Regions from separate parts of the Homo sapiens genome. Here all the other regions are linked to region 5. Evidence: fine-mapped expression QTL. A gene starts in region 5. Each other region holds a variant in brackets. All regions are shown on one strand. Distances are from middle to middle. Region 1 has its middle 100 kb from the start of SPANXA2-OT1. Region 2 overlaps MAGEC3 (MAGE family member C3). Region 3 has its middle 36 kb from the start of SPANXA2-OT1. Region 4 has its middle 13 kb from the start of SPANXC. Region 5 holds the start of MAGEC3 (MAGE family member C3). Region 6 has its middle 21 kb from the start of SPANXC. Region 7 has its middle 5.5 kb from the start of SPANXC.

What was found.
Region 1: its variant is fine-mapped to the expression of MAGEC3 in coronary artery (GTEx, PIP above 0.99). The same link has a PIP of 0.9 or more in cerebral cortex.
Region 2: its variant is fine-mapped to the expression of MAGEC3 in thyroid (GTEx, PIP above 0.99). The same link has a PIP of 0.9 or more in skeletal muscle.
Region 3: its variant is fine-mapped to the expression of MAGEC3 in coronary artery (GTEx, PIP above 0.99).
Region 4: its variant is fine-mapped to the expression of MAGEC3 in pituitary (GTEx, PIP above 0.99).
Region 6: its variant is fine-mapped to the expression of MAGEC3 in pituitary (GTEx, PIP above 0.99). The same link has a PIP of 0.9 or more in cerebellar hemisphere.
Region 7: its variant is fine-mapped to the expression of MAGEC3 in nucleus accumbens (GTEx, PIP above 0.99). The same link has a PIP of 0.9 or more in caudate, cerebral cortex and hypothalamus.

The regions. Positions count from the first base shown.
Region 1 is chrX:141,396,403-141,401,072 of GRCh38, forward strand. No RefSeq gene overlaps it. Among named protein-coding and RNA genes, the nearest start is that of SPANXA2-OT1, 100 kb to the right of the region's middle. The variant G/A (reference allele first, on the strand shown) is at 2,575.
Region 2 is chrX:141,877,086-141,881,755 of GRCh38, forward strand. It overlaps MAGEC3 (MAGE family member C3), which reads left to right. Exons shown (of 8, transcript NM_138702.1): 3 at 2,090-2,346; 4 at 4,318-4,670. Among named protein-coding and RNA genes, the nearest start is that of MAGEC1, 24 kb to the right of the region's middle. The variant A/T (reference allele first, on the strand shown) is at 2,250.
Region 3 is chrX:141,464,614-141,469,283 of GRCh38, forward strand. No RefSeq gene overlaps it. Among named protein-coding and RNA genes, the nearest start is that of SPANXA2-OT1, 36 kb to the right of the region's middle. The variant G/A (reference allele first, on the strand shown) is at 1,912.
Region 4 is chrX:141,227,619-141,232,288 of GRCh38, forward strand. No RefSeq gene overlaps it. Among named protein-coding and RNA genes, the nearest start is that of SPANXC, 13 kb to the right of the region's middle. The variant G/A (reference allele first, on the strand shown) is at 2,070.
Region 5 is chrX:141,835,695-141,840,364 of GRCh38, forward strand. MAGEC3 (MAGE family member C3) reads left to right here and starts at 2,622. Exons shown (of 8, transcript NM_138702.1): 1 at 2,622-2,744. The coding sequence starts at 2,622.
Region 6 is chrX:141,261,052-141,265,721 of GRCh38, forward strand. It overlaps the pseudogene RBMX2P2. Among named protein-coding and RNA genes, the nearest start is that of SPANXC, 21 kb to the left of the region's middle. The variant G/T (reference allele first, on the strand shown) is at 2,630.
Region 7 is chrX:141,245,708-141,250,377 of GRCh38, forward strand. No RefSeq gene overlaps it. Among named protein-coding and RNA genes, the nearest start is that of SPANXC, 5.5 kb to the left of the region's middle. The variant G/A (reference allele first, on the strand shown) is at 2,766.

The DNA of each region.
Region 1 (4,670 bases), 440 kb before region 5:
GTCCTGCCCCATCCCTCCTTAAGCCTTGGCAAACAGTAACTTGTTAAGCTGTTGAATATTCCATATTTTCTTTCTCTAGTGGCACGTCCTAGTATTAAAAACAAAAAAGCAAACAAAAAAATTTTTGAATTAAAATTATTTCCAAGAAATCTGGAGCAAGAGAGTTCCCCTTTCAATATTACTATTGTGGCAAAAGTTTCTGAAGCCCCCATCCAAATTTATTTTAAAATATGTTTATGAACTTAGGGTTTTTTTGTTTTGATTTTTTGTTGTTTTTCACAAACCAGATGCCACCATATGGCTTCAATGTGTTCTACTTCGGTGTTAGAAACAAAGTGAAATGGCTGCCAGATTTCCCTGGAGTCCTCATATTATAAAGGAAATGACTTGTGAAGCCAGGAGACTCAGTATTATGATAAGCCCTCCAAAATGGTTTAGATCTGAAGTTCAGCATACCCAACAAAAACAAAAAAGAACATTAGATGGTGCCTGCACAACAAGGTAGCCATCCCACCCAAATGCCTCAAAGGGATGCAAGCTGATGGTGTTAAAAGCTATTTTTCTTCAGTGGTTTGATTCAGTCTGAGTTCAATTTTAGAATCTCTTTTTCCTGAGTTGCTACAGGTATACCCTTCCATTAGTCAAAAAAGTTTCATTTGTAAATCTGACACCATGTATTTATATGAGATTGAATGCTAAACTTGGTTGAATTACGTCACTATAATTATCAAGTATAAAGATTCAGGCAATTGCAGCCTTAAATTCATTTACCTTGGCCTATTACCTATGCTCTTTTTCTTATATGCTCTTAACATCATCTTTTAAGAAAACGAAAGTGGCTATATTTATCACTCAGGATATGCTAGGTTATGCTGTAGGAATAGACAATCTTAAAATCTCAGTGGCTTAATAAAGCAAAGGTTCATATCTCATTCATGGAATGTCTGCTGCTAAATATGATACTGAAAAAAAGGTAAGCAAGCATATACCAGATTTCAAGATAATGCAAAATTTGATGGTATAATAAGGTGCACAAGTCATATACATAGGGTAAAACGTTTGAAAATATAATTTAGGATAATGGCTCCGTTTAACATGGATGGTGAGTACCTAGGGATTTACTACCTTTTATTCTTTATATGTTACATATACTTTTGTGCATGTATGAACTATTTCATAAAAAATGGTTGTTCAAAATGGCACATTTTCAGTGATAAATTTGAATTTTTCAAACATTGTAGAAGTCCTATTTGAGAGTATTAAGTAATGACAGCTACAGCTAGTTTATAGGGCTTAATCAAAATAATAGTCTAACCCTGGCTATCCTGATTATACGTTTTCATAAATTCTATAGACAAAATTTACACTTTTGAATGACACAGAACAGGAAATATATGACTGTAATCAACAGCATGGACTGGAGACAAAATGTCCTGGATTTGATTCAGGTTACATCAACTATAGACATCAATAATATAAATAAAACTGTAAAGATGCTTTAAGACTGAGAGGTGTGAGTTCTTGGTCCATTCTAAATTTGAACTGAAATATTATTCTATGATCATCGTTGGAAGAAATAATATAGTTCCTTTGAGATGTGGTTCTATGTGGAACTGTTTAACCAATGCTAATTACATAGGATTCCAGAGTCTGGAATCAACTCTGGCTTTTGTTTTTAATTCCCACGATAGTCTAGAATTGATGCTAAGTCATTATATGCATCCAAGGAGATTTAGTTTTATAGAGGAAGTTTAAAATCTCAGCTTAACGGTTGTTTGTTTATAGGAATGCTAGTGACTTTTGTACATTGATTTTGTATTCTAAGGCATCACTGAAGTTGTTTATTAGATCAAGGAGCTTTTGGGCCAAGACCATGGGGTTTACTAGACACAAAATCATGTCTTCTGCGAACAGATAGTTTCAATTCCTCTCTTCCTATTTGGATGCCCTTTATTTCTTTTTCTTGACTGATTGTTCTGGCGAGGACTTCCAATATTACATTGAATAGGAGTGGTAAGAGAGGGCATCCTTGTTTGTCTTGTTCCGGTTCTCAAGGGGAACGCTTCCAGCTTTTGCCATTCAGTATGATGTTGGCTGTGGATTTGCCATAGATGGCTCTTACTACTTTTGGGTATGTTCCTTCAACATTTCCTTTATTGAGAGTTTTTAACATGAAGAGATGTTGAATTTTATCAAAAGCCTTTTCTGCATCTATTGAGATGATTATTTGGTTTTTGCTTTTAGTTCTGTTTATGTGATGAATCACATCTATTGATTTGCATATGTTGAACTAACCTTGCATCCTAGATATAAAGCTGGTTTGATTGTGATGGGTTAGCTTTTTGATGTGCTGCTGGATATGGTTTGCCAGTGTTTTGCTGAGGATTTGTGCATTTATATCCATCAAGGATATGGCCTGAATTTTAGTTTTTTTATTGTGTCTCTGCCAGGTTTTCGTATCAGAATGATGCTGACCTCACAGAATGAGTTAGGGAGGAGTCTCTCCTCCATTTTTGTTGGAATAGTTTCAGTAGAAATGACATCAGGTCTTCTTTGTATATCTAGTAGAATCTG[G/A]CTGTGTATCTCTCTTGTCCTGGGCTTTTTTTCACTTGGTAGGCTATTTATTACTGACTCAATTTTCAAGCTTGTTTTTGGTCAGTTCAGGGATTCAATTTCTTCCTGACTCAGTCTTTGGAGGGTGTATTTGTCCAGGAATTTATCTAGTTCTTTTAGATTTTTTAGTTTCTGTGCATGGAGGTTTTCATAATATTCTATAGTGGTTATTTGTATTTTTATGGGGTCAGTGTTAGTATTCCCTTTGTTATTTGTAATTTTATTTATTTGGATCTTCTTTGTTTTCTTCTTTATTATTCTAGCTAGCAGTCCATTTTATTAATTTTTTCAAAAAACCAACTGCTAAATTTGTTGATCTTTTGAATTTTTCTTCATGTCTCAATCTCCTTCAGTTCAGCTCTGATTTTGCTTATTTCTTGTCGTCTTCTGCTAGGTTTGGGGTTGGTTTTCTATTGCTTCTCTTTTCCCTCTAGTTGTGATGTTAGGTTTTTAATTTGAGGTATTTCTAACTTTTTGATTTTGGCAAATAGTGCTATAATTTTTCCTCTTAACACTGTATTAGCTGTGTCCTAGGGATTCTGAAATATTGTATCTTTGTCCTCTTTAGTTTCAAAGAACTTTTTGATTTCTCCCTTAATTTCATTACTTACCCAGAAGTCATTCAGGAGCAGGTTATTCAATTTCCCGGGAATTGTATAATTTTGAGTGAATTTCTTAGTATTGATTTCTTATTTGATTGCACTGTGGTCTGAGAGAGTGGTTGTTATGTTTTCAGTTCTTTTGCATTTGCTGAGGACTGTTTTATATCTGAATATGTGGTCAATTTTAGAGTATGTGCCCTGTGCAGATGAGAAGAATGTATATTCTGTTGTTTTGGGGTGGAGAGTTCTGTAGATGTCTGTCAACTCCATTTGAGCCCGTGTTGAGTTCAGGTCCTGAATGTCTTTGTTAATTTTTTGCCTTGATGATCTGTCTAATATTGTCAGTAGAGTGTTTAAGTCTCCACTGTTTTATTGGATGGGAGTCTAAGTCTCTTTGAAGGTCTCTAAGAGCTTGTTTTATGAATCTGTGTGCTCCTCTTTTGGGTGCCTATATATTTAGGATAGTTAGGTCTTGTTGAATTGAAGCCTTTGTTATTATGTAATGCCTTTCTTTCTTTTTTTGATCTTTGATGGTTAAATGTCTATTTTGTCTGAAATTAGGTTTCCAACCTCTGCTTTTTTTTTTCCATTTGCTTGGCATATTTTTGTCCATCCCTTTATTTTGAGCATATGGGTGTCATTGCATGTGAGATGGGTCTCTTGAAGACAGCATACCAATGGGGTTTGGTTTTTTTTGTTTGTTTTTTTGATTTTTTTTAACCTATATTGCCACTCTGTGCCTTTTATTTGGAACATTTAGCTTGTTTACATTCAAGGTTAGTATTGATATGTGTGGATTTGATCCTGTCAGCACGATGTTAGCTGATTATTTTGAAGACTTGTTTGTGTGGTTGCTTTATGGTATCACTCTCTGTACTTAAGTGTGTTTTTGGAATGGCTGGTAACGGTCCTTCCTTTCCATATTTAGTGCTCCCTTCAGGAGCTCTAGTGACAGATCTAGTGGGAACAAATTCACTCAGCATTTGCTGGTCCAAAAAAGGATCTTATTTCTTCTTTGCTTATGATGCCTAGTTTGGCCAGATACAAAATTCTGAATTGGAGTTTCTTTTCTTTTAGAATGTTGAATATTGGCCCCAACCTTTTCTGATTTGTAGGCTTTCTGCTGCGAGGTCCACTGTTAGTTTCATGGGTTTCCCTTTGCTGGTGACCTGGCCTTTCTCTCTAGCTGCCTTTAACGTGTTTTGTTTCATTTTGACCTTGGAGAATCTGCGCAAGAACCCTGACAGTCTTCCTGGTCCCTGAGTGGCAGCTGTACCACTTGGCTGTGTCCAGGCAGCTACCTTTGAATCCCCAACTGAGTGTTCTTATTTTGTCGACAAGACTTGTATAGGTCTCAGGCCTATAGACTAATGCAGAGATTCTTGACTCCTTTATGATAATGGTTAAAAAAATAGACAATGATTATGTGCCTTGGGATAGTCTTCTTGTGAATAT
Region 2 (4,670 bases), 41 kb after region 5:
TGATTTAGGATTGCAGTCGATCTGTAGATTCCTTTTTGGGAAGAATCAACATATTTAAAATATTGAATCTTCATGCCCATGAATTTATTTTATTTTATGTTCAGGTAGGTCTTTGTTAATATGCCTCAACAGCATTTTAATATTTTTGTCTGTAAAAATTTTTTGGTTAAGCTTTTTTAACCAAAAAATATTTTAACCAGCCATCAGCTGCCTCCCAGTCTTATTTGGTTAAAATGTTTTTGGTTAAATTATTTTCCTAAGATACTTGATATTTTGGTACTATAGGTTAAAATTATATAGTCTTTACTTTCATTTTCATACTCTTTCCCTGACAAAAAACGAAGTTGATATTCTTTTGAATATTGACCTTATACTAGCAAACTGATATACTATTATATATTGAATAAATTATCTTTAGTTGTTTTGGATTCTTTTCATGCACAGTCTAATCATGCATGAATCACAAACGCTTTGTTTCCAACTGGCCAATCCTCATTCCTTCATTTACTGCTCTTTGGATTACTACACTGGCTACTACCTCTAGTATAAAAAGTAATAGAAGTACTTGTAGCAGAAACTCTAGGTTAGGTCTCAAGTTCAAACTAGAGGCTTCCAACATTTCCTTAAAAGATGTATCTGTTGTAGGTTTTTCATGCATATCCTTTTATCTAGTTTGGTAACATTTTTCATATTTGATAAACTTTATGTTTAAATAATTTTAGATTTACAAGAAAATTATAACAATAGTAAGAAAGTTCTCATATGTTCCACACTCAATGCCTCCTGTTATTAACACCTTACCTTGGTAAGGTTTCCTAAAACTAATGAGCCAGTATTTGTACATTGTTTTTAACAAACATTCTTTATTTATTATTGAACATACTTCAGTCACATTTTCTTACTTTTCACGAAATTCTATTTTCTATGCCAGGATCCCCTAAGGATACTCCATTACATTTAGTTATCATGTTCCTTCGATGCCCTTTGGCTGTACCGGTTGATTGAGACATTTCTCGATTTTGAAAACATTGACAGTTTTGACAGTTTCGTATGGTTAGGTATTTTGTAAAATTGACTTTGACTGGGATTTATGTGATTTTTTTCTGTCATGATTTGATGTAGGTAATGTTTCCTGGAAGGATGAACAGAGAGGTGAAGTGCCGTTCTTATCATACCGACAGCACATAGTACCAACAAAATTTGTCACTGATGATGTTAACTTGATTACCATGGCATCATCGTGCTTTTTAGCTTTATTCAGGGTAAAATTACATTATTTTTTGCCGTATGTTATACTGTCATCATGAGAAGAACAGGGAGACCCAGGACCAGCCAGTAGTCACATGAAGCCTCTGAGAGATAACTGCAAGACTCCCTGCCCACAAAGAGAAGGATCCACAGAATCCAGCTCCACTGCTGCTGTCAGCCCTGGGAGGCCCTGGGGCATGGTGGCCCACTGTGGTGTCCCCCTGACATTTTAGAGGGTAGAAAGAGGAGAAGGCTCTGCCTAGGTGAGTCTCACTTCAGATCATGAGAGGTGAAGGGACTCAGGCCCTTCCAGGCATCCCCAGGATGACACAGAGGAAGGACTGGTGAGACACCCCTCCCAAGAAACAGAAGGACACACAAATCCAGGCCCTGTTTTCACCCCTGGGAGGCCTTGGGCAGGGCCCTCAGTCAGAGATGCTAGCGCTTTTCACTTCGTCTTGGGGGGCGTCTCATGGAAATGGGGACCTTGATCTGAAGAACATAGTCTCTGGACAGCAGGGGAAGGGCTCCCAGGCCATGTCAGGAATAATAACTGCAGGAAAACAGAGAGTCCTGCCCACCCCATTTTAGAAAAAGGACACCAGAGTCCTGCCTTGGGCCTGGGAGGCCCCACCCCACTGTGGGTGGATGTGATTCTCCCTCTCTTGCACCTTGCAGGTCTCAGGGATGGGAGGGGCTTATTCGGAGGTGAAAGACTCAGTTGCACAGAGGCAGGAAGGCCAGGCGGTTTCCAGGAGTCCAGGCACAGCCTCTCGGGAAGGCAGGAAGGGAACACCCATGACTGGTAGTGCCCCTCCCCTGTCCCTGTGCCTGCTGCCAGCTCTGGAGGACCCTATCAGGGTCCCCAGGTTTACAACTTTCTGACTTGCATTTTGGGAGTCAGCCGGAGGGGAAGTTTTCTCTGAGGAGGGCAGTTTCAGTTAAGCAGAGGGAGGAACCCCAGGACTGGCCACTCAACGAGAAGAGAACTCTGTGGAAGG[A/T]CAGTGACCTTCCAACATGGAGGAGAGGCACAGGCTACACCCTTTCCCTTCCTGCCGTCAGCCCTGGAAAAAGGTTGTGGGGGGAGAAAGCGGGGAGGTGGGCAGGGAAATATGGACGAGGGCTTTGAAGTGAGGAGGAAAAGGTGGAGGGATACCGAGAGGTGGGCAGGAAGGGGTGGAAAGGGTCGGGGAGGTAGGCAGGAAGGGGTGGAGGGGGCCCAGGAGATGGGCAGGAAGGGGTGGAGAAGGGCCGGGAGGTGGTCAGGAAAGTGTGGGAAAGAGGTAGAGAGGTGAGGGGTGGTTCCTCCATAGAGAGGAGACCTAGCCCCACTGGGAGTCTGAAGTATTTGAGGCATTTTGTGAGAAGGCTTAATTGAGATCAGCAGACAGAAGACTCTTAGAACTGGCCGATCCTCAAGGTAAGGGCCCTAAGGGAGAACTGAGGGACCTCCCACCACAGAAAGAAGAAGCTCTTGCCTGCCCTCTACCTGCTGTGAGATTGTAGGTCGCAGACAGGAAGAGGGTAACCGAGGGCTGAGGGACACGTCTTCATGACAGAAGAAGGGAGGAGGTGCCAGCTCTCTAGGGAATAAATAGGAAGACTTTGAGAAGGACAAGGGGAAACGCCACCTCAGAGGACAGACTCCCAGAGATTCCCAGCATGCTCCTCCATATCAGCCCTCGTAGAGCTCCCCAGTCAGCTCAGGCTGAGCGGCAGCCCTCTCATTGCTGGGTGAGAGGTGCAGGGAAAGGGAAGGCCTTGGTCTGAGGGTCCCGTGGCAAATCAGCACAGGGAGCTGCCTCCAGTTGGCAGAGGGAAGATTCCCAGGCCCTGCTGGGGATAAGAGTGAGGACTGAGGAGTCACATGTGCATCAGAACAGATGTGAGGCCAGCCCAACTGCCCCCGTGGTAGAGTGCTGGGAGGTGGCTGCCACCTCACTACCTCCCACTGCTCTCAGGGATGTGGAGTTTGCCCTGAGTTTTGGCTAGAAGAGTGGTAGGGACATGGCCCTGTCTGAGAAAAGGTGAGGATGCTAATTAAATTCTGATGGGACCATGCAGTCCAGAACTGTGGGGCTCTGGGAGTCTGGTCAGCCCCAGCTGTCAGCCTTGGGAGGCCCAAGACTCTGCTTGCAGTCTTTAGCCTGAGGGGCTCCCTCACTTCCTCTTGCAGGTGCTCCAGGAACCAGGAGTTGAAGACCTGGGTCTGAGGCACACTTCCTAAAGTCAGCACAGCAGAGGAGGCCCAGGCAATATCAGGAGTCAAGGTGAGTGCACGCCCTGACTGTGTACCAAGGGCCCTACCCCCACAAACAGAGCAGACCTGGCAGCACCTGGCCATAGCCACCTACTGCCATTCCTGGTGCCTCAGGCTCTGCCTGCCAGCTGTGCCCCGAGGTGCTTTCTCACATCCTCCTACAGGTTCCCAGGGGACAAACCCCCTAGGATGGCAGGTGACCCGTGAGGCCCTAGAGCACCACCTTAAGAGAAGAAGAGCTGTAAGCCGGCCTTTGTCAGAACCACCATGGGTGAGTTTCTCAGCTGAGGCCACTTGCAGTGTCCCTCTCTCCCTCAGGCCTGTTGGATGCCATCATCCACATCCCTGCTCACACATTTACCTCCTGCTCCTAAGGAAGACGTTATGCCTGTGTTTTGAAATGTTCCTAGCGGCAACTTTGAGAAAGACTTCCAGAACCAAACTGTGATAGAGAACTTGGCAGATGCACAGGATTCCACAGAGGAGGAAGAGGAGAAAACCTCCTCCATTTCCTCTTCCTCTTTCTACTTATTATTCCCCTCCTCTTCCTTCTCTTCTTCCTCCTTCTCCTCCTCTTTCTCCTCTTCCTCCTCCTCCTCCTCCTCATCCTCTACTCTGATTCTTGGTGCTCATGAGGAGGAGGAGGAGTAGCTGTCTGCTGGGATGCTGCCTCTTCCCCAGAATCCTCCTGAGAGTCCTCCCCAGGGTCCTCTCCAGGGTTCCCTGTCCTGCTCCTCCTCCACTTTATGAAGCCCATTCAATGAAGAGCCTAGCAGCCAATAAGATGAAGATACAAGTACCTGGCACAGCTTGCCAGAGAGCGAGCCCTTGTTCACTTATACACTGGATGAAAAGGTGGACAAGTTGGTGCAGTTTCTTCTCCTCAAATATCAAGCAAAAGAGCCTCTCACAAGAGCAGAGATGCAGATGAATGTCATCAACACATACACGGGCTACTTTCCTATGATCTTCAGGAAAGCCCGTGAGTTCATAGAGATTCTTTTTGGCATTTCCCTGACAGAAGTGGACCCCGACCATTTCTATGTCTTTGTAAACACATTAGACCTCACCTGTGAGGGGAGTCTGAGTGATGAGCAGGGCATGCCCCAGAACCGCCTCCTGATTCTTATTCTGAGTGTGATCTTCATAAAGGGCAACTGTG
Region 3 (4,670 bases), 370 kb before region 5:
CAATATATGTTTAAAACCAATCCAGGTCCACTTTCAAATAACACTATACCACTTCATGGGTAATGAAAGTAATTTAAAATAACAAAATAATCTGAATTCCTCCATCCTGTCCTTTGCAACATTGCTATCATTTATTTTACTTATATATAAGCATATAAATACAGAAGTATATATATTGAATACATTGTTGCTATTCTTTTTTAAACAAACCATTATATGTTACATCAATTACAAATAAGAAAAATAAAAGCTTTTAGTTTACTTATTCTTTCTCTAATTTCTTTATGTAGATCCAAGTGTCTAATCTATATTATTTTCCTTCTCTCTGAATAACTTTTAACATTTCTTTCAAAGCTAGTCTTCTGGCAATAAATTCTCTCAATTTTTGTTTATTCAAGAAAGTCTCTATTTCTCCTTCACTTGTGAAGGATAATTTTATAGGATTCAAAATTCTAGGTTGGTGAAGTTGTTTTTCTACCAAAACTTTAAATATTTCACTCCACCTTTTTCTTGCTTGCCTGGTTTCTGAGAAGTCAAGTGTAATTCTTGTCTTTGATCCTATATAGGTGTCTTTTGTTTCTGATGGCTTGTTTCAAGACTCTTTTCTTATCTTTGATTTTCTGCAGTTTGAAAATGGTATGCCTGGCTGGGCGTGGTGGCTCACGCCTATAATCCCAGCACTTTGGGAGGCCAAGGCGGGTGGATCACCTGAGGTCAAAAGTTTGAGACCAGCCTGGCCAACATGGTGAAACCTCATCTCCAGTAAAAATGCAAAAATTAGCTGGGCGTGGAGTGGGCACCTGTAATCCCAGCTACTCGGGAGGCTGAAGCAGGAGAATCGCTTGAACCCGGGAGGCAGAGTTTGCAGTGAGCTGAGATCGTGCCACTGCACTCCAGCCTGGGTGACAGACTGAGACTCTGTCTTCAAAAAAAAAAAAAAAAAAAAAAATGGTATGCCTATGTGTATGTTTGTGTTTTTTTTTTTTTTTGGCTTTTATCCTGCTTGGTTCTCCAAGCTTACTGGATATGTGGTTTGGTGTCTGATATTAATCTGGGGAAATTCTCAGTTATTATTCTGTTACACATTTCTTCTGTCCCTGTCTCTCTTTCTTTTCCTTCTGATATCCTCATTATGTGTATGTTATACCTCTAAGAGTTGCCCCACAGTTCCTGGATATTCTGTTCTGGGGGTTTTCGGTATTTTTTTTTCTTTTTTCTTTTTAGTTTTGAAAGTGTCTATTCCATACCCTCAAGCTCAGAGATTCTTTCCTTAGCTGCATCCAGTCTACTAATATGCCCATCACAGGCATTCTTCATTTCTGTTGCAGTGTCTTTGATCTCTAGCATTTCTTTTAAATGCTATCTCAGAATTTCCATCTCTTTGCTTACATTATCTATCTGTTCTTGCATGTTGTCTACTTTTTCCATTAAAGCTCTTAGTACAATAATACGTATTTTCAAAAAAATTCCTCGTCTGATAATGCCACCATTCCTGATATATTTGAATTTTGTTCTGATGTTTGTTCAATCTCTTCAAACTTTGTTTTGCCAGTAATGTCCTTGTAATATTTTGTTGAAGGATGAACATCGTACATTGGGTGAGAGAAACTGCAATGAAGAGGCCCTGAATGATGTAGTGGTATGTGTTTGAAGGTGGCATGTGAAGTGTTCTATAGCTTTATGATTAGCTTTGTCTTTTTTTTTTTTTTTTTTTTTTGAGAAGGAGTCTCACTCTGTCACCAGGCTGGAGTGCAATGGGGTGATCTCGGCTCACTGCAACCTCCACCTCCTGGGTTCAAACGATTCTCCTGCCTCAGCCTCCCAAGTAGCTAGGACTACAGGCGCACGCCACCATGCCTGGCTAATTTTTTGGTATTTTTGGTAGAGACAGGGTTTCACCATGTTAGCCAG[G/A]ATGGTCTCGATCTCCTGACCTCGTGATCCACCCGCCTCAGCCTCCCAAAGTTCTGGGATTATAGGTGTGAGCCACCGCGCCGGGTGATTAGCTTTGTCTTTTGGTGAACCTGTGCCCCTAAACTGTGAACTTAGCCAATACTTCTCAGCTTCTTCCCCCTTGGATAGGACAGAATGTTTATAGTGGTGAGAGTTGAGCATCTCCCTTTCCTCACATGAAAGGCTACAGGGAGCTGGAATTGGGTATTTTCCTTCCCACAAGTAGGTTCTGAAATAGTCCCAGCAGGTTAGACTCTTGTAAAATACTGTAGTTTCTCCTAAGGACATGTCTTCTGAAGAAGAACAAAATGCTTTGGTGTATTTCAGAATGTTTACTTTTCTAAAGCATGAGGGGACTTTCTGATGCTCATTATGAAGACCCAATAGAGCTCCAAAAGGTAAAAACTCACAAAATGTAAGTGCAGCCATATAACAGAAGTTTTTAACTTTCAGAGTTGTCCACTCTGAGCCTCCAGCGTTTCACCAATTACAGTTTACGTTTTCTTACTATGGCATTGGTTCTTGTGGAGGTTTCTGCTTTGGGGTTTCTGCTCTAGTAAGCTGTGATTCCCTTTGTCTGCCTGTTTCTGTCTCCAATTTTGGGGGCAGCAATTTACTCTGTGACCTCACTTCTTTGATGAATCTATAGCCTAAGAATAGTTGTTGATTTTCCCTTTTGTTCAGCTCTTCACATGTTGATAGGAAGGAGCAACAACTTCCAAGCACCTTACATGTTGGACCAGACACCAGAAGTGGTAGAAATTAAAATGAACAGAATAATGTTAAGGACATATCCAAGGTTATACACCTAAGAAGTAATGAATCCAGACTCAAAACTAATGTCAGAGCCCACTGTCAACCACTGCCCTAAGCTGATCTCAGACCACTCTGCTATACTTAAAAAGCGTATATTGGTTATATGTGGGCTCTAGAGCTAGACTCTTTAGGTATGAATCCAGTTCCATCACTTTTATTAGTTGTATGACTTTTTGCCTAAGTCTGTTGTAGGGATTAAGTGAGTTGGTTTCTGAAATGCACTTACAACAACAGTGACTAGAAGTGAGAAAGCGCTTACTAAATGGTGGCAGCTTTTGGTACTGCATGGAAGAGCCAGCATTCTTATCCCTCCAATACATGAAAAATGCACAGGTGTGGTATGGTGAATTTGTAGCATCTCTTCTGGAAATTCGGGCGGAAGAGATTTCCAAAGCATCTGTTTTCTTGAAATGCTGCACCCTATATAGTTTCTTGCTCTTCAAAGTCTGGTACATTAAACCAACAACATTGGCATCTCCTGGGAGCTAATAAAAAAATGAAAATTCTCAAGTCCCATCCCAGACCATTTGAATCAGAATCTGCATTTTAACAGGATTCCCAGGTGATTAATTGGTGCATTTTAGTTTAAGACTCTGATATAGCATAGTGGTTAAGAGCACAGGCTTTGAATTCAGACTCATTTGCATCAGAAGCGAAGTTCTGTCAATTATAAGCTCTGTAATCTTTGAGCAGTTTTCTTAACTATCTGTGCCTAATTTCCTCATCTATAAAATTGGAATAATAATAATACCTCTCTCACAGGGCTGTTGAGAAGATAGACACACAGTAGGTGCTCAGAAAACAAATGTTATAGCTACATTGCTACCATTATCATCAAAGTGTCAAGGCTGAAACAGGCCAGGTGAAAAGCTATCCCCATGAAGTCAGTATATAGGGGAAAGAGGGCACTTGAGGATGGCTCAAGTCTGGAGGGTCACAGCCTGGATACTTTATTCAACTACAGTGGAGAGCAGGGTATTATCACAAGGAATGCTTAGATCACATGTGAAACAAAAAGGGCATAAAGTTGAAATTGTGAGGCAAAGACATCAGGACAAGAACAAGTTGAAGATTAGAAGGAAGGACAAGGAGAGAACTAAGCAGGAAGAGTGACTGCTGGTTCAGAGAGAAAACCTAGTCTCCAGCACTGGTACAACCAAGTGGTATGATTGTGTTCTGATGCACTTGGATCACATGGCCAGAATAATAAAGGGAGCTCCTTAAAGGTACTGGAGGGGCTCCGCCAGCACCGCTCCCCACCCCCCAAAAAAACACACACCTGGTTTAGAATACCCCCAAGGACATCGATCCATCTCATCTACTGTATCCTTAATGCATCCCAGGAACAATTAACTAAAGCGGGGTTTCACTGGGTGCAAGAGGAGGAATTCATTCCCTATTTCCATACATTTACTCTTTCATTACTGCTTTGGAGTGCATGAAACTTGACCATGATTAAACAGAAACACTTTTTTGAGTATGCAATCCAAGGAGCTATTTTTCCCCAACCTACTGGGCTGAAAAATATTTATTCTTCCTGAAGGATGGAATGGTAGCCTCCGTGGTTTGGCTTCTTGCAATAACACTCCCTAAGGGTTAATGTGCTATTAATATGGCAAAAAAGGAAGAAACCCCTTTAAATAGCAGCTTATGCTTCTTTTTGATTTCTCTCCTGCAAAAGTTGATTTACTGTGTGTTTCTTCCATCTGGCAGGAAGCTAATCTGAATATGAATCAATCCTTGCAAAAATAACTGCAGGAAATTTTAGACATTCATAACTTTCCAAAGTTTTTTTTTTTCTTTAACAATAGCATTTTTGTCATTCTTTCAGTTGTGCAAAGTTTTTCAATTGAAATGAAGTATGACTATTTAAGGAATTCTGCCACCTCATCCTGAATGCCTCC
Region 4 (4,670 bases), 610 kb before region 5:
ATCAAATGAGTGAAATGAAGCGAGAAGAGCAGTTTAGAGAAGAAGAATAAAAAGAAATGAACAAAGCCTCCTCGAAATACGGGATTATGTGAAAAGAGCAAATTTACGTCTGATTGGTGTACCTGAAAGTGATGGGGAGAATGGAACCAAGCTGGAAACCACTCTGCAGGATATTATCCAGGAGAACTTCCCCAATCTAGCAAGGCACGCCGACATTCAAATTCAGGAAATGCGGAGAACGCCACAAAGATACTCCTCGAGAAGAGCAACTCCAAGACATATAATTGTCAGATTCACCAAAGTTGAAATGAAGGAAAACATGTTAAGGGCAGCCAGAGAGAAAGGTCGGGTTACCCACAAAGGGAAGCCCATCAGACTAACAGCTGATCTCTCGGCAGGAACTCTACAAGCCAGAAGAGAGTGGGGGCCAATATTCAACATTCTTAAAGTAAAGAATTTTCACCAGAATTTCATATCCAGCCAAACTAAGCTTCATAAGTGAAGGAGACATAAAATCCTTTATAGACAAGCAAATGCTGAGAGATTTTGTCACCACCAGGCCTGCCCTGAAAGAGCTCTTGAAGGAAGCACTGAACATGGAAAGGAACAACTGGTACCAGCCACTGCAAAAACATGCCAAACTGTAAAGACCATCGAAGCTAGGAAGAAACTGCATCAACTAAGGAGCACAATAACCAGCTAACATCACAATGACAGGATCAAATTCACACATAACAATATTAACCTTAAATGTAAATGGGCTAAATGCTCCAATTAAAAGACACAGAGTGGCAAATTGGATAAAGAGTCACAACCCATCAGTGTGCTGTATTCAGGAAACCCATCTCACGTGCAGAGACACACATAGGCTCAAAATAAAGGGATGGAGGAAGATCTACCAAGCCAGTGGAAAACAAGACAAGGCAGGGGTTGCAATCCTAGTGTCTGATAAAACAGACTTTAAACCAATAAAGATCAAAGGAGACAAAGAAGGCCATTACATAATGGTAAAGGGATCAATTCAACAAGAAGAGCTAACTATCCTAAATATATACGCAGCCAATACAGGAGCACCCAGATTCATAAAGGAAGTCCTTAGAGACCTACAAAGGGACCTAGACTCCCACACAATAATAATGGGAGACTTTAACAACCCACTGTCAACATTAGACAGATCAACGAGACAGAAAATTAACAGTAAGTTTCAAAGAATGAAAATGAATCAAGCAGAGATTGTAGAGCTGAAAAATGCAAGTGATAGGCTGCAGAATCTCTCAAATTCTGTTAATAGCAGAATCAATCAACAGAAGATGGTATTAATAAGCTTGAAGAAAGGCTATTTGAAAATGGTCTTTTGTCAGAAAAGACAAAAGAAAAACCGAGTAGAAAGCAATGAAGCATGTCTACAGGATCTAGAAGATAGCTTCAAAAGGACAAATCTAAGAGTTATTGGCCTTAAGGAGGAGGTACAGAAACACATATGAGTAGAAAGTTTCTCCAAAGAGATTATAATAGAGAACTTCCCAAACCTAGAGAAAGAGACACATATCCAAGTACAAGTATGTTATAGAACACCAAGGAGACTTAACTGAAAGAAGGGTGCTTCAAGTTATTCATTAATGAAACTCCCAAAAATCAAGGATAAAGAACTTTTCTTAAAGCAGCAAGAGAAGAGAAACAAATAACATCCAATGGAGCTCCAATATGTCTGGCAGCAGACTTTTCAGTGGAAACCTTACAGGCCCGGAGAGAGTGGCATGACATATTTAAAGTGCTGAAAGAAAAAAATTTTAACCTTAGAATGATATATCTGAAACAACTATCCTTCAAACATGAAGGAGAAATAAAAATGGGCCCAGAGAATCAAAACCTGAGGGATTTCATCATCACTAGCCCTGTCCTACAAGAAATGTTACAAGGAGTATTTCAATCAGAAAGAAAAGGATGGTACTGAACAATAAGTAATCAACTGAACAATAAGTAATCAACTGAAGGTACAAAACTCAGTGGTCATTGTAAGTACACAGAAAAACAGAATATTTTAAAAAAGTAACTGTAGTGTGTAAAGC[G/A]CTCTTATTCTAAGTAGAAAGCCTAAAGGATAAACCAATCAAAATGGAAAAGCACAACTTTTCAAGACACAGTCAACACAATGAGATACAGAAAGAAATGACAAAAAATTAGAAAGCAGTGGGACAAAGTTAAGATGCAGCTTTATTAGTTTTATTTTTGTTTGCTGTTTGTTTGTCAAAATCGTCTTAAGTAAATATCAGATTAAAAATAATGGTTTATAAGATATTATTTGCAAGCCTCAAGGTAACCTGAAACTAAAGAACATGCAATATATACACAAAAATTCGAAGGCAAGGAACTAAATCATCTACCCACAGAAAAATCATCCTAAGAAAAGACAGAAAGGAAAGAAAGAAGGAAGATAAGATCACAAAAACATCTGAACATAAAAATCAAAATGACAGGAGTAAGTTCCTACTTATCAATAGTAACATTGAATGTAAATGGGCTAAACTCTTCCATGAAAAGACATAGACTGGCTGAATGTATGAAAAAACAAGACACATTGATCTGTTGCCTGCCAGAAACACACTTCACTTCTGAAGACACACATAGACTGAAAATAAAGGGATAGAAAGAGATGCTCCATGCGAATGGAACCAAAAAGAAGCAGGATTAGCTATATTCCTAGCAAACAAAATAGATTTCAAGACACAAAATGTAAGAGGAAAAAAAGTCACTATATAATAATGAAGGGATCAGTTCAACAAAAGGCTATAAGAACTTTACATATATGTGCACCCAACCCTGTAGCACCAAGGTATATAAAGGAAACACTATTACAACTAATGGGAGAGATAGGTCCCAATAGCATAATGGCTGGGGGCTTCAACACCCTACTTTCAGCATTGGACAGTTCTTCCAGACATAAAATCAACACAGAAACATCACACTTAATGTACATTACAGACCAAATGGATGTAACAGACATTTACAAAACACTTCTTCCAAGGACTGCAAAATACACCTTCTTTTACCCAGCACGTGGATCATTCTCAAGGTTAGAATATATGTTAGGTCATAAAACAAGTCTTAAAACATCAACATTCAAATAAATTGAAATAATTTCAAGCTTCTTCTCTGACCACCAAAAAACAAAAAAAGAAAATCCCGAAAATAACAAGGGGAACTTTGAAAATTATACAAATCCATAGAATTAAAAAAAAAAAAATGCTCCTGAATGACCCACAGGTCAATGAAGAAATTAAAAACTAAATTGTAAAATTTCTCAAAATAAATGATCATGGAAACACAACATACCAAAACCCATGGGATACAGCAAAAGCAGTATTAAGAGGGAAGTTTATAGCTATAAGTGCCTACATTGAAAAAGAGGAACACCTGCAAATAATTCATGACGCATCTTAAAAAAACAGAAAAATAAGCTCAAAGTGAACCCCAAATCAGTAGAAGAAAAGAAATAATGAAAGACCAGAGCAGAAATAAATGAAAGTAAAATGAAGAAAGTCAAAACACTATCAAGGAAACAAAAAGTTGGGTTTTTTTTAAAAAGCTATACAAAATTGAGAAACCTGTAGCCAATCTAAGGAAGAAAAAGGAGAGATCGAGATAAATAAACTCCAAAATTGAAAGGAGACATTACAGGCTAAAGCTGCAAAAATTCAAAGGGCTCTTGTGGTGACCGTGGGAAACTGTATGTCAATAAATTGGAAGATCTCCCTGAAATGAAAATTACTTCCTGCTGACGAGGGGACGGAGAGTTTTTTGGGTTGACAGTAGGAGCAATGCCGTCTGTAGATGTTTTTGGGTAGTTGTCTGTGAAATGGCCGTGATCCTGTTAGTTAAAATTTTCCGAGAAAGGTTAATTAGGCAGGGTAAGAAAATTAGTCCCAGGCATATTGTTAGGAGAGGGCCCAGAAATAGGATGACCCATGCTATGATTGTGTTCCCAAACCAAGAACTTATTTGGTTGTTTTGGTACTCCCTTAGCTTTTTAGCCTTTTCTTTATGTTTGTTTTAGCAGCGTTTTTTAACTAGGCCTGATTGGTTGATAAAGAAACAATATTCCTTACCTAATGAGAGGTAGAAGCACATGTTTGGAAAGGCCCATGTGTTAGTTTCTGTTAGTAAGCGTTATTCCTGCTAAGAGGCTAATAATTAAGCAAAATGCTACAGTAATTGAGATTGTTTTTGTCTGACATTTTACCCTGAGGGTGCTACAGTATATAGTTTTACTGCAAATAGTAGGGTGAGTAAAGCAGTTTCCACAAGGGTGGTGTAGTCAATAATTTCCATTAAAAAGTTGTAATATTTGGCTTGAAAGGAGAGATAGGAATGACAAAAGTGTTTGGTGAGGTAGGGGTGAGACTGAGTAAGACGAGCAATTCTTTCTCGGTTATTTATTTTTTATGATTTTTAGCTTACGATTTCCTATTTCTTTATTTGCTCCTGTGAGGGTTAGGGGGCTTAGAGGCAGTGCCTGCTGAAACATCTAGTTTCCAGTTTATAGGGCTTTAAGAAAGCACAGCTTATTTTGAAGTCTTGTAGTCAGAAAAATTAGAATTTAATTAAACAGTAGCAAATAATAACTGAAAAACATCAGGCAACTCTAGAATTTAACAAGAGGGGTGTCATAGTTT
Region 5 (4,670 bases):
TTGAATATCAAATTTCTGTTTTTGACTTTCCATTGGAATAAGTCAGGAATGTCTACGTAAGACAATGCTTGAGGGTAAAAGATGAGTGAATGCGGAGATCTTTGTGAGATTGAGATGGCTGGCATCAGCTCTGAAGCCATGCGATCATTAATAGTAAGTTTCTGCTCTGCCATTTACAGATGCTGTAATCTGAATCGATCTTTCAATTTGTTCAAAATTCAGTTTTCTTTTAACTTTGTAAAATAAAAATAACTCTTGTTACTACATGTTGGGACATTTTTAACAGATTAAATGTGATAATATAAATCTGAAGTATTGAGCACTGTACCTGGCATAGAATGAGCTCATTATAATATCAGTCTCCTTATTCTTTCCCTTGTCTAACCATCAGTGGTGAGAAACAGCTGTTGATTTGCCAAAATATATGCATAATTTTATAAATGAAAACATCCAAAATCTCTTTGGGTGGCCTATTAAGGAATGAGCTACAGGGTTTTTCACCTTTATTACTATTGACATTTTGAGACAGATAGTTCTGTGGGCTTTTTTGAGGGGGTGTCATCTTGCTGAATTTAGAATGATTAGCAGCATTCCTAGTTTCTATTCAATAGATGCCGATAGCACCAAGAGCCATCCCAGTTGTGACAACCAAAAATATTTCCAGACTGCAAAATGTCTTCTTGGGATGGGGTGCAAAATCACCCCCAATCTGAGCACTACTGAGCTAGAGGAATGAAAAGGACATTGTGTTGGAAGAGGGTAGGGACTTAAGCTTTGAAATGTTGTTCATAGCTTGGAAGAGGCCCACCTTAGCCGTTTCTGCCATTGGGTGAACTAGGCTTTTTGTGCCTAGGTGTTAGTGAATGGATGTCAGAGCAGAAGGTAGGAGACAGGAGAAGAGTCTTCTCTATTTAGAGGGAATGGAAAAGATGCAGGGCAGTGTCAGAAGGTTTCAGATCTCTCATGAGCAAATGCAAAACTTCTGTGTTCTCAAGACCGGAAACACATTTCTCAGCCAAGGGAAGAGGCTAATTGAGAGGAGTGATCGTGGCTCTTCTTCATTTTCTTAGTAAGCTCCTGAAGGTGGCAAGACCGCAGAAAAGCAATGCATTTAATACCTCAGGGACTTGTTAGTGCCTGAAATTGAACATGGAGGCATTGGGATGATTTCATTGTGCCTCAGAAGTTATTAAACTGAGTCAGGCAAGTCTGCACTCTGGCTCCCCATGTGCAGGTGCAAGCAGTGGCCCCAGTGGGGATCCGAGGGCAGTTCCCTGGCTGGTGGGGTAATGTTCCAGGCAGGAACACAGCTGCCTCTGCTGCACAAAAAATCTGCCTGAAAAGTGGGAGGCAGCAGGTTGTAATAAGCCCCACTCAGCTCCCACACACTTGGCAAGTCAGTTTTCATACCCACAGTGTTCTGCTAGCAGCAGCAGCTAACTGGGTTTCAAGTGGCCCGTGCTCAGAATTTAAAACCATCCCAGGCCATAAGCTTTCCCTATGGACACAGAAACCATATCTTTCAGGCTGCATCCTTTCCAGTCCACCTGTGAAGCAGGGCCATGCAGCTCATGTGCCTTGTTGCCGTAGCACACTTCTCACTTGCCCCTCGGTTCTGGCCAATCAGCTTTGTCCTTACTAAGGATTATATCACAAATCCCAGTTGGGCTCTTCTCTCAAACTGTGACTGCAGCCTGAGTTAGACTTCTGCAACGTCCCGTGAGGTGGGATCAGGAATGGCTTCCCTCCATTCTTGCTGGAATCTGGGTCTGCACACAAAGCATGTCCCGATGCTGCTCCTTCTTATATATTCCTTACTTTTCACTGAATCACCTCTAGAGCTGAGTAGGTTTGAAGTCCTCCCTCATGACTTGTATTGCCTGGCTCGCCTGTGGGAGTATATGTCATGACAGCAATCTATCCCTCTCTCATGCTCTGGGGACTAATGGTTTTCCATCTGTTTTATGATGTAGTCTGTTGCCTGCCACTTCATTCAAAGGGTCTGTGGTTTCTTTCAGTTTTTCTGTTAAGTTCTTACATTGTTTCTTCGAATAAATTTTACAGCATGAATCTCTACATGCCATTTTGTCTTACCAAGTGGGATAAGTATGCTTATAATGCTTCCAATCTGCCATCTTGGAAAAAAAGAAAAAAAAAACTTTAAATATTTTGTCTGTAATGTGCTATGGAAGAGACCTTTTCACATTGTATCTGTTTAGGAATTGATGGGCCTCCTGTATCTCAATGTCTAAGTGTCTTGCTCGACTTAGGAAGTGTCATCTATTATTTCAATAAATAGGTCTTTGAAAACATGTTTTCTCTCTTTGCCTTCTGGGCTATCAGTGATTTTTATATTTGGTCACTTTATGTTGTTAGATAGATTCCAAAGGTTTATTTTATTATTTTCTTTTTTTCTTTATTTTTGTCTGACAGCGTTATTTCAAAAAAAACTGTCTTCAAGCAAAATGTGATCTTAACATAAGTCAGTTATGATTGAGTATATTGTTGAAGCTTTCATGTGTATTTTTTAGTTTATTCACTGCATTCTTTGGCTCCAGAATTTCTGTTCGTTCCTTTTTTATGGTCTCTATCTCTTTGGTAAAGACAGGGTGGCAGTGGCCATGCTGCTGCCCTGCCACTGGGTGTTGGATGCCACCTTCAGTGATGGCAGTCTAGGCCAGTGGGTGAAAAACACATGTGCCACATATGCCTTATCCCCAGTGGTGCTCCCACCTCAGCCCCAGGTGTGGTAGCCCATGAATGCTCATGTCTAAGCCCCAGGTTAACAGCCAGCTCTTCTTTTGCATCTCAGCCTCAGTGTTGCTTGGCTCCAAGACAGTGTGCAGTCTGTTGGGGGTGAGGCTCTAAGATGCTATCTTGCCCAGCCTTGATGTTCATGTCTTTCCCTTGGTTGCAGTAGCCTGTGGTCGCTCATGTCTGAATCTCCAGGGAAACATCAGACATTTAGTTTGCACCTAGGCCTCAATGCCACTGGGCTCCAGGACAGTATGTAGTTCATCGGGGGTGAGGCTCTGCAGTGGTGCCTCATTTGTGCCTCAGTCCTAAAAGCAGCAGCCCACGCCTTCGTCCCACCTCTGCACCAGATGCTGTAGTCTGTAGTCACTGATGCCTATGTCCCTGGGGCAGCAGTTCGTGCTTCTCTTGCACCTCAGCCCTGGGCTACTGGGCTCCAGGACAGTGCTCAGTCTGTTGAGGGCAGGGCTCTAAAATGGTACTTTGTTGTAGCTGCTTAAGTCTCAAGAAGTGTGAGGGACCCAGCGGGAGCTTTCTCCCTGAAGCAGTGCCATCATACAATCTCCTGGCAGCTTTCTATGTTAGTTTCGGGGCCCATGATGGTTGAAGGGATCTCCTGTGGCTGGGATTATAGGAGTCTATAGTGAGAATGTAAACTACTGAGGCTCTCTCACCTATCCTTTCTCTGTATTTGGAGTCTCTCAGCTCACAGCTGATCCTGGATGAGCAGGCTGCCTTGATTCCCTCTCCATCTCTGCTTTAAGTATTGCCTATCACTTTTCTAATGGATTCCAGTGATTTCCTTTGAATTATATATTCAAAGTGTGATTATCGACTCACCGTTTGGTTATTTTTAATGGAGAAAGTGAGTACAAAATGCCTCTAGTCTGCCATATTCATGGTTTCCAAGAAATAATTTTTAAAGGTTTTTAAATATTTTATGTAATTATAATGATTATGGGCATAAGAAGGATTATGGAGAAGAACGGAGCAAAATAAAAGCTTCATTCACTCTGCTGTCATATTTGATTATATCTTGAGGTCAAATTGATCTTTGCTATTGTCTTGGCTGCCGGCTCTGGCTACAGCTAATCCTGGGCAGGCTTTGCAGCTCCTACCACTTCCAGGCCCACAGCTGCAATCCCAAGCTTGCTCACCAAAACAAGTGTTTATTCATTATATCTTCAGTAGATTTTATTTTATAAATATGAATTGTTTATATGCATTTCTAATATGTCAAATGCTTTACTAGCTTTTTAATATCTTTATATCCATTTTCCCTGGATCATTACTTACTGTTCTTAACTCAGTGGTTCTTAACTGGAAGAGATTTTGCCACTTAGGGGATACTTGCCAATATCTAGAAATATTGTTGGTTGTCATAATTGGTGGCAGCAGGGAATGCTACTGGTATTTAATAAGCAGAGACAGAGATGCTTCTAAGCGTCTTATTGGACAAAGGACGACCTCACACAAGAAAGAATTATACTGCCTAAAATGTGATGGTGCTGACAGTGAGAAACCCTGAGTTTAACATAATTTGCTCAGAACTCTAAAAATGATTCACTTTCCAAAAATTTGCTGCATTTTTTCTTCTGGTCAGAATGTGCACAATGGAAATTCTTCCTGAAGGATTTGTGTGAGGAGACCTATTCTATAGCTGTTAAATGATTGGCAGGGAGGTTGATAGATGGAGGTGAAGTCAGCCAAAACTTAACTGATATTTAACAGCCAGGAAATACCCAACCTGGAAAGTATTCATTCATAGCATCACAAACCACTAAAGAAAAGTGATATTTTACCTCTGAGAAAGTTAACAGCAAAAGTATAGTCTTTCTAATTAGTTTTTAGCTTGCAATCTAAATAAATGACAAGTAGAGAATATCAGGTCATAAAATATCATTTAATTTTAAGAA
Region 6 (4,670 bases), 570 kb before region 5:
AACTAAATTTGACTGCATTAAAAAAAATAATTATTTCTAAATCTGCTGAGCAGCTGAACAGTCTTCAGTGATGCCTACTGTCACTGGGATTCGAAGACTCCCGCTCCCGGGAGCGCCGGGCCCTTTTATGCCTATGGGATTTATCTCGGCTCCTACGTCTTTTAAAAAAAAAATTATTATACTTTAAGTTCTGAGGTACATGTGCAGAACGTGCGGGTTTGTTACACAGGTACACATGTGCCATGGTGGTTTGCTGCACCCATCAACCTGTCATCTACATTAGGTATTTCTCCTAATGCTATCCCTCCCCTAGCCCCCCACCCCCCGACAGGCCCCAGTGTGTGATGTTCCCCTCCCTGTGTGCATGTGTTCTCATTGTTCAACTCCCACTTATGAGTGAGAACATGTGGTGTTTGGTTTTCTGTTCTTGTGTTAGTTTGCTGAGAATGATGGTTTCCAGCTTCATCCATGTCCATGCAAAGGACATGAACTCATCTTTTTTATGACTGCATAGTATTCCATGGTGTATATGTGCCACATTTTCTTAATCCAGTCTATCATTGATGGCCAGTTGGGTTGGTTCCACATCTTTGCTATTGTGAACAGTGCTGCAATAAACATACATGTCCATGTGTTTTTATAGTAGAATGATTTATAGTCCTTTGGGTATATACCCAGTAATGGGATTGCTCGGTCAAATGGTATTTCTGCTTCTAGATCCTTGAGGAATCGCCACACTGTCTTCCACAATGGTTGAACTAATTTACACTCCCACCAACAGTGTAAAAGCATTCCTATTTCTCCACATCCTCTCCAGCATCTGTTGTTTCCTGACTTTTTAATGATCACCATTCAAATTGGCATGAGATGATATCTCATTGTGGTGTTGATTTGCATTTGTCTAATGACCAGTGATGATGAGCTTTTTTTCATATGTTTGTTGACTGCATAAATGTCTTCTTTTTAGAAGTGTCTGTTCATATCCTTCCCCCCACGTTTTGATGGGGTTGTTTTTTTCTTGTAAATTTGCTTACTGAGTGGGCAAAAACTGGAAGCATTCCCTTTGAAAACCAGCACAAGACAAGGATACCCTCTCTCACCACTCCTATTCAACATTATATTGGAAGTTCTGGCCAGGGCAATCAGGCAAGAGAAAGAAATAAAGGTATTCAAATAGGAAGAGAGGAAGTCAAAGTGTCTCTGTTTGCAGATGACATGATTGTATATTTAGAAAACCCCATCGTCTCAGCCCAAAATCTCCTTAAGCTGATAAGCAACTTCAGCAAAGTCTCAGGATACAAAATCAATGTGCAAAAATCACAGGCATTCCTATACACCAATAATAGTCAAACAGAGAGCCAAATCATGAGTGAATTCCCATTAGCAATTGCTACAAAGAGAATAAAATACCTAGGAATACAAATTACAAGGGATGTGAAGGACCTCTTCAAGGAGAACTACAAACCACTGCTCAAGGAAATAAGAGAGGGTACAAACAAATGGAAAAATATTCCATGCTCATGGATAGGAAGAGTCAATATCGTGAAAATGGCCATACTGCCCAAAGTAATTTATAGATTCAGTGCTATCCCCATCAAGCCAACATTGACTTAGAAATTAGAAAGTAGAATTAGAAAAACTACTTTAAATTTCACATGGAACCAAAAAAGTGCCCGTATAGCCAAGACAATCCTAAGCAGAAAGAACAAAGCTGGAGGCATCATGCTACCTGACTTCAAACTATACTAAAAGGCTACAGTAACCAAAATAGCACAGTACTGGTACCAAAACAGATATGTAGGCCAATGGAACAGAACAGAGGCCTCAGAAATAACACCACACACCTACAACCATCTGATCTTTGACAAACCTGACAAAAAAGAGCAATGGGGAAAAGATTCCCTATTTAATAAATGGTGTTGGGAATACTGGCTAGCCATATGCAGAAAACTGAAACTGGATCCCTTCCTTACACCTTATACAAAAATTAACTCAAGATGGATTAAAGACTTAAACATAAGACCTAAAATTGTAAAAACCCTAGAAGAAAACCTAGGCAATACCATTCAGGATATAGGCATGGGCAAAGACTTCTTGACTAAAACAGCAAAAGCAATGGCAACAAAAGCCAAAATTGACAGATCGGATCTAATTAAACTAAAGAGCTTCTGCACAGCAAAGGAAACCATCATCAGAGTGAACAGGCACCCTACAGAATGGGAGAAAATTTTTGCAGTCTATCCATCTGACAAAAGGCTAATATCCAGAATCTACAAAGAACTTAAAGAAATTCGGCTCCTACTTTTACTTCTATGACTACGCCCTTCAGAACACCCATTGTACTGGCTAGAATGTGTGTCTGAGCTCCGCCCTCTGTCCCTATTACTGGTCTTTTCTTCTCTTGCCTCCCTCCTGCTTGAGGACTTGTGCTCATGCTTGGGTTTCTCTTTCTTCAGGTCCCTCTCTAGGTCCTCTGCTCCACCAGAGTAGGCAGTCCTGGCCTTAGGGAGCTTCATCCCCTCCCTGGGCTCTGACTTCTGAGCTCTCTCTGAGTTCTTGCTGCTGTGCTTCTCAGGGCCAGGGTCATCCTTTTCTTTCACTGTCTTGCTTCTGGGTGATGAAAGAGGAT[G/T]GTTGCTCTGCCTGTACCTCCCAGCCAATTTTCTCTTTTTCTTTTTTTTTTCTTTTTGTCATTTTTGTGCTTTTTTGTTGGTTTTTCATTTTCAGAGCTCAGACAAACTTGGTGAGGGAGTACAAGCCCCACAGCCCTTCTCCTGGAGCTCTTTGGTCACATTATCCATTTCTTCTGAGTCCTTAGGAGTCCAATAGTTAGACACATGATCCACTCGGATAGTTCTTCCTTTGATCTTGATCCCATTAAAATTGTCAATGGCCAGAATTGTGCTCCTCTGGCCTTCATAGCAGAGGAAACAGAATCCTTTGGATTTCCCAGTCTTCTTGTCCCGCATGAGATTGATGTTAACAATCTCCCATATTGTGAGAACACACAGATGATGTCCCCTTCAGTCAGTTCATAAGGAAGCCCTCCCAGGAAGATCCAGGCACTGTCCTTGTACTCGGAAGGCCAGGACATCTTATCGGCCACCCCAAGCTGGACCTCTCGCTCATTCAGCTAGTTGATCGGCTTCATCTTAAAGGGTTCATCTCTGCGGGCTCGCACTCAGCGTTCAGGTATCAGAACAATCACTTTTATAACCTGTATGAAATAGAGTAAAGCACCAGCAAACCTGCAAGGGGACAAGTTTTAACTGTAACTGTGTCAGTTAAGGAGATAACTGATGGTTGGGAAAACAGAAAAGTATCTATGGGGTGAGGGGCATAGGGACTCTAAGTAACAGGGGAGAGTCTTTTGGACAGAACTCAGCAGAAATTGTTCCTTTCTCCTACTTATATCCAACAGGGTAGCCATATTGCAAATATATTTTCCAGCAAATGTATTTTGCAGACAGCATTACCAGAGCCAGTTTGCACTAAAGAGAGTTGCAGTGCCAGCATTCCACAAATCTGTGAAGATAGCAACTAGAGTCATAGAAATATAAGGACAGGAGGTTGAGCAACTGCCATTATATGAAAAAACTCTTTGCAGTTAATATTTTGGAACTTAATGGGTAGACACTATAGACTAACTAAGGAGATCCCTCTCACTGTCTGGCAGCACTTCCCCTACAAATCTCTATATATTGCAATAAAAGCATTTATTCTGATCATAAGAATTATATGTGCTTATCATGGAAATTTGAAAAATACCTCAAAATATTAAAAAGGGGAACATTCTATCATCCAGTGATAATAGCTTGTGTACTGATGTGTATTCACCCAGCCTTTTCTTCCACTGAGAATGATGTATATGGCTGTGTGTGTGTGTGTGTGTGTGTGTGTGTGTGTTTTAAAATCGATATCATATTCCAAAAACAAATCTCTTTTTTCACTTAATACATGAGGAACATTTCCCATGTCATTAAATATTCTTCAAAATTTCATTGTTAATGACTGCATAGTGTTCAGGTTTTCTGTATAACTGTTAAGCATTAGTATATGAAACATTTTTCTCTCTCTGTAATTATTACTTGCAATAGCTAATGCAATGAAATAGGAAAATTAAATATGTAGTGTACATTATTATTATTTTTTTTTGAAAGGGAGTCTCGCTGTGTTGCCCAGACTGGAGTGCAGTGGCACAATCTCAGCTCACTGGAACCTCCACCTCCCAGGTTCAAGCGATTCTCCTGCCTCAGCCTCCGGAGTAGCTGGGATTACAGGCACCTGCCACCACACCTGGCTAATTTTTGTATTTTTTTTAGTAGAGACGGGGTTTCACCATGTTGGCCAGGCTGGTCTCAAACTCCTGTAATCCCAGCACTTTGGGAGGCCGAGGCAGGCAGTATACATTTTTGAATGTGGGACAAAATTAATATTATTTGAGAATATTATTATTTTATACGTAGAAAAACACAAAGCAACCCAGTAAATTAGCTATCAGGGTGAGAAAATTTAGTAAGTTAGCTAGAAAAAAGATTAGATTTGTTTTATATTGACAATATACAATTAGAATTTGAAATGGAAAGAAAAAGAAATCACACTTCCAATTTCCACAAAAATGATAAAATAACAAGAAATACAGTTTTTGTTTGTTTGTTTGTTTGTTTGTTTGA
Region 7 (4,670 bases), 590 kb before region 5:
AAAAATGTTATCCTAGAATTAAAAAAATTGGAAATGACCCAGACGTGTAATATCTATTATTTAGCTTAATATAACTTTAGATTTTAAATTATATGACAAGATAATCTACAAGAACTTATTCTGTTACATTTGTGTAATTAATTTTCTAATAGTTTACTCAGGTTACTTATGAAAACTGTGATAGTTACCATTTAAAGTTATGTCCTTGTTAACCATTTTTATAACCTGTGAATTTCAGGTTGTCCTGAGTAAGAACATTAAGGTTAGATAAAGGGTCGTTTTTTTGTTTGTTTGTTTGTTTTTGTTTTTTTGTCAATAACTCAGGATTTAGCTATTTTCATTAACCAAACAATATTAAATTCCTTACTTACTAAATTTTACATAAACAAAGATAATTCTCATTTGAGCTGCATTCATAGCTTTAGAACCCTCATGCCAAATGTTGACATCTAGCAGAGATAAATATGTTGAGAATTCCAAAGCCATTTCTAATTCAATTTCACTAAAATTTTTAAAACCAGCTTGTTTATTGAAGATTTGCTTAAGTCACATGAACTTGAAAAAGCATTTGGCTTAAAGTCTATTTTTCTGAAAAGCATTAGATTTAAGTGCCTTTGTTAAGCCAATTAATTAGAGCTCTTTTCTACATTTTTAGTAGTGAAATGTCATATCCATGACACATAAATACATAGATGTATTAGATATGTAGATAGAAGTAGATCTTATAAATTCCTAAGGCCTTTATTTTTTCCTCGTATTTTAGATTTACAATTTCTTCATAACCTATTTTATTGCCCTAGGCAGTTGTCATCTAGATAGCCCTAAATGTGCATATTAAAGGAACTCTTAGGTAAAAAAAATCAGATAGTGAAATTTACATGTCAAAGCACAGAGAGAAAGAGTCGGGCGATGTTAGAGGGAGATTAAACATGGATGCCAAATCAAACACAAAATTGTAGAAATATATTATAGGATTGTATAAGGAGACCAGTTGTATTTAGATAGGGACTACCTGTCTTTTAACTGGATCTCTGAGCTCTGGGCAGAGCCCACACTGAATCCTAGGTCTCCAAAAAGGGAGAATTACTATGAGGCTACACCAAGTGACGGTTTTACAGTGTCCTTTTTTTTTTTTTAACAAAGACATTTCTAAGTGTTCAAGCTACTTTCTTCCTTAAAAATCCAAGAATAAACTAATAACAGTTTTAGTTAAAAAATCAAGTAACACAATACAAAAGCAGGCAGCTTAAGATCTGAGATGAACTTGTCTGTTTACACTCTTGGGAAAAATAGAGGTTTCTCCCCAAAAGGGAGTGTGGCATCTTCTCCATTTTCTTTAAGGAATGCAGGCAATTATAAACTATTTTACGTCCCTCATGCAACAGTGGGTAGCAAAATAAAGGAGAGACAGCAGAAGTAAATGAAGAAAACAGAATGTCATCGTCTGAGAAGAAAAAAAAAAAAACTTTTGCTCAAAAAAGACAAGGTCCTAGGAGAGAAGATGTAGAAAGTAGTAATGTTTCTCTTCAAAACTCATCTTGGTTTAAAAATAAAATAATAGACACTATAAGTAATAGCTCCTTACTCTAAAGCCTCCTCTCAACTACTAGTTCTTACACTTGAGCCCAGTTAGTTGCTTTGGCTTACTCAGGCATGTCTGGACAGGCCCAGGCAAGTCTTAGCTCATAGCTTATGCCCCTTCCTTTTTTGAAATGTTAATTGCTTCCTTAAACCTTTAGTAAGCAACTTCTTTTTCTTCTTTGTTCTCCCTTGCACTTACCTGTTTAGGAAAGTTTTAGGTTATTAGCAGATTTGGTATCAGTTGAAGACTGTGAGGTCCAGCTCCAGCCAATGGATGCAGGACAGAGCCGTAAGGCTGACCCAAATACGTAAATAATAAATATGTCTGCTTTTCCTTTGTTCAAGTGTGCTGTCACGATTGTTCGATCTGCGAGGGGCACCCTTTCTGCAGAAAGTAAAGATTGCCTTGCTGAGAGATCCTTTGTCTTTTCTTCATGGCACCGATTATCTGTTTCTAACAGAGGAAAAAATAAAGGCCTTTTAATACAAATGCACACATGCACACACACACACATCTCAGATGTTAGCTTTTAATTAAGCTGACTTTTAACCCTTGAGCTCCTTTAAAAAAATCTTTCTGAATCTCATTACCATTTTTTAGCTAGGAAAAATTGCTGATGTTTCAAAAGAAGCAAGTATCAAACCAGAAAGGGCTTGATTTAGGAAGCAAACCCAGGCTGTTGTGGAAAAAAAAGAAGGCAGAACCTTAGCTATGAAACTGCAGCATGGGGCAACAGCGTTGCTCTTTCAATTTGGCCTGGATAGCAAAAAAGTGGCCTTGCTATGTACATAAAGCCCCTTAAGTACTCAAAATCAAAAATCTTTATTGTTTTTTCTTTTGCTGAGCATTTTTCCTCCCAAGCCCTCCCCACCTTTTGTGGAAATTTAGCCACTTCAGAGGCCTTGTTCCTCATAATTTGGAACTTTCCTTTAGATTTGATCAAGTTGGATAGTTTCCCAATGAAGAAAGAAAGACCAAAACAACAAAAACAGAAACAAACAACGGCAAAAAAAAAAAAAGTTAAGCAAAAACACAAAGTATCTCAAAATTTATATGATTACTGAGCACTCTAATGGTAAGGAGAAATTAAGACCAGCTTGTTGTTAATCTTAACTTTAGACAAGACAAAACCCCTATTGAGCTACTTACCTAGTGATGGGTCTCAGGCTGAAGACTGCTGTCT[G/A]TTACCCTAGAAGCAGGAAAAAACTCAGATTCATCTTCCGTGCTGGGAGCAAGGTCAAACTCCATAAAGGAATTACCTGCCTTCCATTGACATGGAAGCAGGAAAACTTGCCTTCCTTGTTGAAAGCAGGTAAATTTTCAGAAAAGGAGTTGTGCAGCAAAATAAAGTTTAGATTGCAACCAAATTTTTGGAGATCAGGGATTCTTTGGAGGGGTGGCTTTCAGGCCTCAGCAAATTGTCCTATTGGTTTTAACCATGAAGATAGCTCAAGCTGGTACCAAGTACCAGTAGAAGATTTGTGAAAGGTCAGGGGCACCTACACTCAGAATCCCTCTGTGGTTACCCAAATGTGAACCCCAAATATCTGAGACAGGTCTCAGTCAATTTTGAAAATTAATTTTGCCAAGGTTAAGGATGCACCCATGACGCAGCCTCAGGAAGTCCTGATGATACAGACAGGAGACAAGGAAATACTGGGTAGGAGAGGGTGGTTCCCCAGCAAAAGTGCTACCCTCAAGCCTGGAAACCCATGGCTCTAAATGGGAACAGGCATTCCTGTTTTCATGACTAAAAGTTGCCTTTGGACCCACCACATCCCCCTATCCTGTACCTATATAAACCCCAAAGCCTAGGCTCCATGAGCAGACGAGCAGAGGAACAGAAGAGCAGAAGAATGGCAGAGAAGGAGAGAAGAGAAGGAGCATCTGAACATTGAGAGGAGTTCAGCTGGGGACAGCAAATCTCCAGGGAAAGATCATCTTCTGACTCTGTCTCCCTTTCAGCTCCCCATCCGTCCCACTGAGAGCCACCCTGACCACTCAATAAAACCTCCACATTCACCATCCTTCAAATCCATGTGAGACCTGATTTTTCCTGGATGCTGGACAAGAGTTTGGGATACAGAAAGCTGTCACACTGGCTTTCTGCCCTTGTGAAAAGGCAGAGGGTCCATTAAGCTGTTTAACACTTAAGCCATCCGTGGATGGCAAAGCTAAAAGAGCACACTGTAATATACACCCACTTGGGCTTTGGGCTTCACAGGCACCCACCCCTGGATGCTGCCATGGGTCTAGAGCCCAGGAGTGCTTGCCCCAGCTTCTGCACCTGCCTGTCTGTGTGTTCCCTTTCCCATGAGGGGTTTGAACATGCATGGCAGCCAGAGGAGCCACACGCCTGTCGCACACTTTTTGATGGGGTTGTTTGTTTTTTTTCTTGTGAATTTGTTTAAGTTCCTTGTAGATTCTGGATATTAGCCCTTTGTCAGATGGATAGATTGCAAAAATTTTCATCCATTTTGTAGGTTGCCTATTCACTGATGATAGTTTATTTTGCTATGCAGAAGCTCCTTAGTTTAATTAGATCCCATTTGTCAATTTTGGCTTTTGTTGCCATTGCTTTTGGTGTTTTAGTCATGAAGTCTTTGCCCATGCCTATATCCTGAATGGTATTGCCTAGGTTTTCTTCTAGGGTTTTTATGATTTCAGGTCTTACATTTAAGTCTTTAATCCATCTTGAGTTAATTTTTGTATAAGGTGTAAGTAAGGAAGGGATCCAGTTTCAGCTTTCTGCATATAGCTAGCCAGTTTTCCCATCACCATTTATTAAATAGGGAATCCTTTCCTCATTGCTTGTTTTTGTCAGGTTTGTCAAAGATCAGATGGTTGTAGATGTGTGGCGTTATTTCTGAGGGCTCTGTTCTGTTCCATTGGTCTACATATCTGTTTTGGTACCAGTACCATGCTATTTTAGTTACTGTAGCCTTGTAGTATATATAGTTCGCAGTCAGGTAGCATGATGCCTCCAGATTTGTTCTTTTTGCTTTGGATTGTCTTGGCTATACGGGCTCTTTTTTGGTTCCATATGAAATTTAAAGTAGTTTTTTCTAATTCTGTGAAGAAAGTCAGT